Linked DNA regions of Homo sapiens: region 1 is linked to region 2. The links come from fine-mapping of genetic effects on gene expression. Tissue or cell type: whole blood. Region 2 holds a variant in brackets; the other region holds the start of a gene. All regions are shown on one strand. Distances are between the middles of the regions. Region 1 holds the start of CASP4 (caspase 4). Region 2 overlaps CASP4 (caspase 4).

Region 1 (4,367 bases), 24 kb before region 2:
CTGCCCTTAACATTTTTTCCTTTCATTTCAACCTTGGAGAATCTGACGATTATGTGTCTTGGGATTGATCTTCTTGTGGAGTATCTTACTGGGACTGTCTGAATTTCCTGAATTTGAATGTTGACCTGTCTTGCTAGGTTGGGGATGTTCTCCTGGATGATATCCTGAAGTGTGTTTTTTGACTTGGCTCCATTCTCCACATCTCTTTCAGGTACTTCAATCAGTCATAGGTTTGGTCTTTTTACATAGTCCCATAGTTCTGGAAGGTATTGTTCATTGCTTTTTATTTTTTTCTGTAATCTTTTCTACCTGCCTTATTTTAGCAAGATAGTCTTCAAGCTCTGATACTCTTTCTTCTGCCTGGTTGATTTGGCTATTGATACTTGTGTTTGAATCATGAAGCTCTCACGCTGTGTTTCTCAGCTCCATCATGTCATTTGTATTCCTCTCTAAACTGGTTATTCTAATTAACAGTTCCTGTAATCTTTTATCACGGTTCTTAGCTTCTTTGCCTTGGGTTAGAATATAATCCTTTAGCTCAGCAAAGTTTGTCATTACACACTTTCTGATACCTACTTCTGTCAGTTCATCCATCTCAGCTTCAGCCCTGTTTTGTGCCCTTGCTGGAGAAGTGTTGAAATCATTTGAGGAGAAAAGGCATTCCAGCTTTTGGAATTTTCAGCGGTTTTGCGTTGGTTTTTCGTCATCTTTGTGGATTTATCTACCTTTAATCTTTAAAGCTGTTGACCTTTGGATGGGATTTTTGTAGGGTCTTTTTTGTTGATGCTGTGTTATTGTTGTTTTATTTTTTTTTGTTTTTCTTCCAACATTCAGGCCCTTCCTCTGCAGGTCTGCTGCAGTGTGCTGAGGATCTACTCCAGACACTGTTCACCTATGTATCACCAATGGAGGCTGCAGAACAGCAAAGAGTGCTGCCTCCTCCTTCCTCCGGAAGCTTCTTCCCAGAGGATCACTGACCTGACGCCTGTTGGAACTCTCCTGTATGAGGTGTCTGGCAACCCCTGTTGAATGGTCTAACCCAGTCAGGAGGCCCAGGATCAGGAACTCACTTAAGGAAAGAGTCTGGCTATCCCTTAGCAGAGATGGTGCACTGGGCTGGGGGAATCCCCCTTGTCTGGATCGCTGATACTCTTCAGAGCCAGCAGGCAGGAAAGATTAAGTTGGCTGAACCTGAGACCGCAGCTGCCCCTCTCCGCAGGTGCTCTGTACCAGGGAAATGAGAGCTCTGTCTGTAAACTCTAGGTGGAGTTGCTGAAATTCCTGCAAGCATTTCTTGCCGGGAGAGGAGGGATGGATCCCGGTCCCACCTAAAGAAGCAGTCTGGCCATGATCTGCCACAGCGGCTGTGCTGCACTGTGAAGACTGCTGCCCAGTCCAATCTGCCCAGCCTCCCTAGCACTGGTAGGGAAAAACCGCTGACTAGAGCTGCAGTAATGGCAGTCGCCCCTCCCCTGGGGAACTCGGTCATCTCTGGCGTACTCCAGGCTGCTATGCTGGCTAGTGGGGATTCTAATCCAGCGGATCTAAGCTTGCAGGCTTCTGTGAGAATGGACCTGCTGCAAGGCCATTTTGCTCCCTGGCTTCAGCCCCCTTTCCATGGGAGTGGACGGGACTCCTGCCTCACTAGAGTTCCGGGAGCTGCTGGACTATGTAAAAACTCCTGCAGCTCAGTGCCTGCCCAAAAAGCTGGAAATATGAACTATTGGGTTAATTCTTATCAGGAAATGAAAAAGAGTTGTTAGATTAAACTTCTTCAGTCATTGTCGTTCTTTGTAATCAGAGAAAGAAAAACTGAGAGATCAGGAAGAGAAGAGACAGATGGATAGAAGAAGTTTGGGTGGCCACAGGAAACAAGAAAAGAAACAAGCTGAGGTGTCAACCCACAGGATAATATTTTGTCATTTTCATTTTTTTCCCCCAAGTCAGAAACTAAATTCCAGTAATTGGATGCCAATTTGCTGATGACAAGGCACTTCCTGATAATGAGTCTGGAATTCTGAGCAGCAGTTTCACAATCTGTAATTACACGTTTCCGCCCTTTGCAATAAGGAAATACATAGTTTACTTTCATTTTTGACTCTGAGGCTCTTTCCAACGCTGTAAAAAAGGACAGAGGCTGTTCCCTATGGCAGGTGAGTCCTTTTCTGACTAGGAGTTTGGGAGTAGGAACTTAGAAAACACTTGATTTATTGCTCTGAAATAAACACAAGAAAGGAAGTGAGCCGATAGCACACATGTTGAATTCCTTTTCTTACTGATTGTGTGTAGTTTGAATCATGGGACCTGGTGTTAGAGATATTGACGGAGGTCATATGTTTTCCAGATGTCTTTGAGCCAGAAAGAAGTTAATTCCTTTCTTTCAGCTTCTGGTAATCAAAGGGAGGGTAAAGAAAGCCAGAGGAAGTTATTTGTGTGAGACAATTCTAGAAGTTTCGAAATGCACTCTGAAATCTTTCTTTTGATTCCAAATTAATTGCCCAGATCACAAACCTTTTTCGCAGAATCAGATCTGAGAGCCTCTGAATTGTTATCTTCTTCGACATCTCTTATTGTGAATTACATTCTTGGTCTGTTTAAAGTGATTCAATTTTTTCCTCTTTCTCGTTGGTCCTGATACTGACTACTTTAATATAATATTTCATGGGTTAATATCACAGTTGTTTTGTTTTGCCGTTGTTATTGTTTTTAACTGGTATCCTTCCCTCCAGGACTTAACTCTCCAATCCATTCTGCACACAACTTTTAGGTCACCTGTCTTATACACAGAAGCTGAAAAAGCCTAAGGGATAGAGTTACTTAGGCAGCTAGTATTCCAGCAGGTCATAACGCTTCTTTGGCTTCATTCTCCTCACAGGAAAAGGAAGAAATTGGACTAGATCAGTGAATTCTAAACCTTATAACATATCGCAGCAATCTGTAGTCATATAAAAAAAGTCAGATGACTACCCCCTTCCTCACCGCGAATAGCTCAATCTTAAATACCCTGCAGGCATTTATTACCTTTGAAGATCGTCACATAATTCTTATGAAACTGACTTGACATAGGTTTGTTCTATTAGGAAAGTTGACCAGTTAGTTAACACTCTCTGCTTATCTGCTAGTGATCTATTAATGTAATTAACTTTGCTCAGGGACATACAGTGGCTCCCTATTGCCTTTTCTCTTTTTTACTATCTGAACTTTCAGACAATTTTTTCTACCTTTTGAAACATGTGTATCCAGTTTTTCCATTAATCTTTGTAAAGCATGATTTCAACTTCATAAAAAAATACTGTATTTACTTCACTCATATTACCTTGTTGTTGTTTCTTTACTCCTTTGATTCTCCCTATAGAACAATTCTCTCCGGGGTTTATGTCTAACTTCACAACATTTAACTTAAGCTCTGGAATCAAGGGATCATTAGATAAAGATAGGGTAAATTGAAAGCCACTAGTCAAAAACAAGTCGTGGTTTGATAATTATAAACAACCAAATGTAGACAGCTATTATTACCTTAAACTCTTGAGGAATTGTATCCTGTAATGTGTTTAAGCATTACATCACTTTGCCTGGAACCAAAACTGTGGTCCTGATAAGTTTTTTCCTCTAATTGATTCCTGCCATTTTTATTATCACTGCAGCTTTCATTCAGTGATTATTATAATAACAAAAAATAATCTATAGTAACCATTTCTTTAAAAAATACTTACCATATGATAGCTAATTCATGCACTCTCTCTGATTTAATATTTAACATCAATCAATACAGTTGTGCTATTATTTCCATATTGTAGTTGAAGGGGATACTTAGAGAATGCCTCCAAAATATGCTTTAGGTCAAAAGTCTGTTGAGAGGAGTGGTCTCAGGTTGGCATGACTCTCAAACTCTGCCATTAATCTAACTTTCTGCAAACATCTTCAAATACTTGCCCTGTCTCTGATCACTGCCACTTCAGTCCTGGCCTCACATTTCTATTCCTTCTAAAGCCCAGCTCTCCCAGTTTTCTGGTTACACGAGACACCCTCAAGCCTTTGTGCTTTTTTCCTTACTGCTCTCTGCCAAAAGACCAGCTCCTAGTTTTCCAGGGGACAAATTCCTACCAGTCCTTCAGGTCTCAGTGCCAAGCCCTCCCTTCTCTGGACAGCTGTACCTGAGACACACTTTGCTTATGCTTTTCTTGAGCTTCTGCTAATTATTTACATTCTTATAATATTTTTCATTTTACTTATTTGCATATGTATTTTTCCACTTGACTGCAAACTTCAAAGTGTACAGACATGCTGCCAAAGTGGTACCCCCAATAACAGCAGAGTAAGTTTCAAGAATTTATGCTCATTAAATATACCTGAATGGATAGGGGAAT
Region 2 (4,363 bases):
GAGGGGTAAATGAGGCCTACATGACGTAATCCTATCTAGGACTCACATTTTCGTGGGAGATATGGATACTGAAAATGTGGGTTAACAAACAAATATGTGCTTACAGATTGTGATAGGATCCATAAAGACATGTGAGAGGGAACAAAAAAGAAGTCATTCTTTCAATAAAAAAGTGCAGAAGGAAAGGTTTGCTACTTCTTGCCCAACTTGGGACATTCCTTATTCCCACTACTTCCTATGTTATTTTTCTCCATAGCTCGTACATCTACCCACTCAGCAAATATTAATAGTTTATTTATGTGTCTGGTTTTTTACTTGTATTTACTCACTAACATGCAAACTTCGTGATGGCAGGGATTTGCTCAGCAATTCAACAAACCTGGCACGTAGCAGATATTCAATTAATAATTATTGAATAAATACATGCATAAATACACAGATAAATGCACCCTCTTGTTTAAAGAGAAAATGGGATTGGTATTAACACAGAATAGTATAATTATTAATAAAGTAAAAATTGTAGAGAACAGTAAAACTCCTGCGGGAAAAGAAAGATACACCTCTGGCGTTTATAGAAGAAAGCCATCCAGAACCAGCACAGTCACTCATTCCTGTAATCCCAGCACTCTGGGAGTCCGAAGGAGGGTGGAGTGGCTTGAACCCAGGAATTTGAGGCCAACCTGGGCAACATGGCAAAACCCATCTCTACAAAAAATACAAAAATTAGCCGGGCATATTGACTGGAACCTGTAATCCGAGCTACCTGAGAGCTGAGATGGGAGAATCGCTTGAGCTCAGGAAGCGGAGGTTGCAATGAGCTGAGATTTCACCACTACCCTCTAGCCTGGATGACAGAGTAAGACCCTGTCTTAAAAAAAGAAAAAGAAAGAAAAGTAGTGAAATAAGAAGAAGGAGGAGGAGAAGGAGGAGGAAATGCAGCATAAATTGAGACAGAGCTCCTGTGAATAGAGATCTGGGAAGTTAAATCTTTTAAATCTTCTTGGATAAGTGGGAGTTAGACATTGTACTTTCAAGGATGTTCATAGAAAAAGGAACTAAAAATTCTGGATTTAGGATAAGTAGACTTACCAATTAGTTGATGCAAAAAAACTACAAGATCAGCTTGGTGGTGGAGATATGAAAGTTGTTCAGTGTTTGGGTCTTAAAGATAAGATACTGGGGCTGGGCACGGTGGCTCACGCCTGTAATCCCAGCACTTTGGGAGGCAGAGGCAGGAGGATCATGAGGTCAGGAGTTTGAGACCAGCCTGGACAACATAGTGAAACCACGTCTCTACTAAAAATACAAAAAACCAATTAGCTAGGCGTGGTGGTGGGCACCTGTAACCTCAGCTACTTGGGAGGCTGAGGCAGGAGAATTGCTTGAACTCTGGAGGCGGAGGTTGCAGTGAGCCGAGGTTGCACCATTGCACTCCAGCCTAGGCAACAGTGCAAGACTCCATCTTAAAAAAAAAAAAAAAAAAGAAAGATAAGATACTGGGATTAAATTCTCCTTCAATTGAGGAATCAGCCTTGGTGAGTGTTGAAAGTACAGAGTCCTTCCTTATCTGGTTTTCATGAATAGTTTTCAAGGGATAACTTATTGTCAGATCTGTAGGTCAGAAATGGAAAATAGAGGAAATGAATGTTGAAAGACCTTGGATTAGACATGAGGTGTTTATTTTGATGTAAAGCATACAGTCTGACATGGAGTGGCAATTCTAAGAGGTAGGGTACAATGTTGAGGAGTTAGAATGCCCATGGGCTTGGTTCTATGAAACCTGCAAGCTCACTTCATTCCAGGTGTTGTCTGGTACATGGTGAAAGATGCTTTCTGAGACTTGAAAAGAGTCGTATCTCATCTACAGCCTATTTTCTTTTTCAGGTACAGCAATCATTTGAAACTCCAAGGGCCAAAGCTCAAATGCCCACCATAGAACGACTGTCCATGACAAGATATTT[C/TC]TACCTCTTTCCTGGCAATTGAAAATGGTTAAGTATTGAGAGTTGTTGGTGGTATGTGAAATAAATAAGAGAGTGATATTGGTGGTTAAGTTCAATGACAAATGACAGCTGAGTACTTGGATGGTCAAATTGGTGTTTTTGTTGATATAGTCTGGTGATTATCTGCTACTTCTTTCCGACTTACATGTATTTGGATTCCTCCAACTCTACAATTAATCAGGCAATCAATCAATCAATCAAGGAGGTAAGGAAAACCGCAGCAGAATGTGATGATGAAAAACCAAGGATAGTAATTATTAAAATAGAAACATGCTCATGCTTCCATTACTATTTATATTCATTTATCTCTCATAGTCTTTCTCTTTTATTCCCCTTTCTTACACACACACACACACACACACACACAGAGAGAGAGAGAGAGAGAGAGAGACACTAAGTAGCCAAACATTGCATCAAACCCTAAACAAAACAGAGTAAACAAAGGAGCTAACTCTGGAGAAAGCAGCATTTTGATCCTCTGAGTGAGGATGTCACAGCAAATACCACATTACTGACATCCAGATACCATTACCAGATGGTACAGAATACATCCTACACTGTAGAGTTTGTGTTGATCCAGGCTCTGGTTCTCAGACTGTTCTCACAATGCAGATCACCAATCACTCAGGGTTGGCTTTTGAATCTTCAATCACAGTCCAGAAGTTCCTTCAAGCTCCCATGTAACTTTTGTTATTATTTTGACCAAAATATTATAGAATGGGTACATTGAGTCTGGACTAAATGATGACTTTCTTCACTCATAATAGCTTTATTTAACACTAGACTATAAGACTATTATCAATCTCCCTCTAAGATACATACTTAAAATTATATTTTATAGTGAAATGTATAAAGTTGTTCTCAATACTTCCAACATTTACCACATAATTTTTACTCTTGGTTTCTGACACTTCAGTCACAATATTGCATCATTTCAGCATAACAGCTTTCAGTGCCTAATCCATCCAGTGGGGCTGCATTTGGACATTGAATTGTTTGTTGACTAATATTTGCCAACACTAACTGTGCACCAGGTTTTGTTCTAGATGCTTGGAATATGCCAATTAACAACGTAAATAGATTTCTTACACTCTGAAAGCTTATATTCTAGTGAGTAGAAACAGACTCTGAAGACATAAAGTGGTAAATATATCACAGGCCGGAGAGCAAAAAAAGATAAAAGGAAAAATAAAGGAAGACAAAGGAAAACACAGAATGATGGATGCTGTACTCCTATAGATATTTCACTCAAAAGCTTTTCTTGAAATAATGAAATCAGAACAAAGAATGGACAGAGTTGGGGAGTGAATAATGTGGTTCTTATGCAGGAAAAGTGTTCCAGCACAGAATACAGCCAGTGCAAATGCCCTGGGATAGCAATGCACTAAACATGTTTAAAGAACTGCAATGAGACAGTGTGACCAAAAGAGAACGTGAGTGGAGAAAATGGCAGAGACAAATTAGGAGAAGCAGTGAGAAGCCAGATCGCGTGGTTCTATGTTATCACATGGTAAACCTTTAAAAATTATTATCTGAGCGAGACAGGAAGCCTTTCTAGTGCTTTAGAAAAAAGAAGTAATATGCTTTAAATTAGGTTTTACAAAGATCACATTTTGGTGAATAGACTAAGATGTCACAGATGGAAGTCAAGGGAAGTGGCAAGAGCACATGGAAGAGGATGCAAGAAGAATCATGATGAGGGATGGGATGAAGGCAGCAAGGGGTAACCATCTTGACCTTCTGTTTTTTCTCTCCCCTGCAGGAAGCCACAAGCAGCCCAGCCCTCCTTAATCAACTTCAAGGAGCACCTTCATTAGTACAGCTTGCATATTTAACATTTTGTATTTCAATAAAAGTGAAGACAAACGAACTGTGTCTTTTTCTAATAGAGAATATAATCTCAATGAAAATGGTGGGTGAGTGGAAATGAAGTGGAGGAAGCTAACTGGATTTTCGAGCTTTATGGCTCATGAAATATCTATACTTGGCTGATGAAGAAAACTGACTGATTTATCCCCAACAATAGGATGAAAGATGTTGCCGAAAACTATAGTGAGATACTGCCTCATACCCATTTGAATGACTCCCATCAAAAAAAGCCCCAAAAAACAGAAAATAACAAGGGTTTGAAGGGATGTAGAATAATTGGAATCCTGTGCTCTATTGGTGAGAATTTCAAATGGTACAGCCACCTTGGAAAACAGTATGGTATTGCCTCATAAAATTAGAAGTAGACTTACCATATGCTCCAGAAACTCCACCTATGGGTACATAACTAAAGTAATTGAAAGCAGGGTCTCAAAGATATATTTATACACCCACATTTATAGCAGCATTGTTCACAATATCTAAAATGTGGAACT

What was found. PIP is the estimated chance that this variant, and not a neighbour inherited with it, causes the effect.
Region 1: it holds the start of CASP4, and the variant in region 2 is fine-mapped to the expression of CASP4 in whole blood (TOPMed, PIP above 0.99).

What each region holds. Positions count from the first base shown.
Region 1 is chr11:104,966,305-104,970,671 of GRCh38, reverse strand. CASP4 (caspase 4) reads left to right here and starts at 2,098. Exons shown (of 9, transcript NM_001225.4): 1 at 2,098-2,153. The coding sequence starts at 2,147. It overlaps LOC124902813 (a long non-coding RNA gene), which reads right to left. Exons shown (of 2, transcript XR_007062986.1): 1 at 2,512-4,367; 2 at 2,092-2,387. RefSeq lists an enhancer at 1,099-2,298.
Region 2 is chr11:104,942,373-104,946,735 of GRCh38, reverse strand. It overlaps CASP4 (caspase 4), which reads left to right. Exons shown (of 9, transcript NM_001225.4): 8 at 1,885-1,988; 9 at 3,763-3,870. The coding sequence ends at 1,983. Among named protein-coding and RNA genes, the nearest start is that of CASP4, 24 kb to the left of the region's middle. The variant C/TC (reference allele first, on the strand shown) is at 1,962.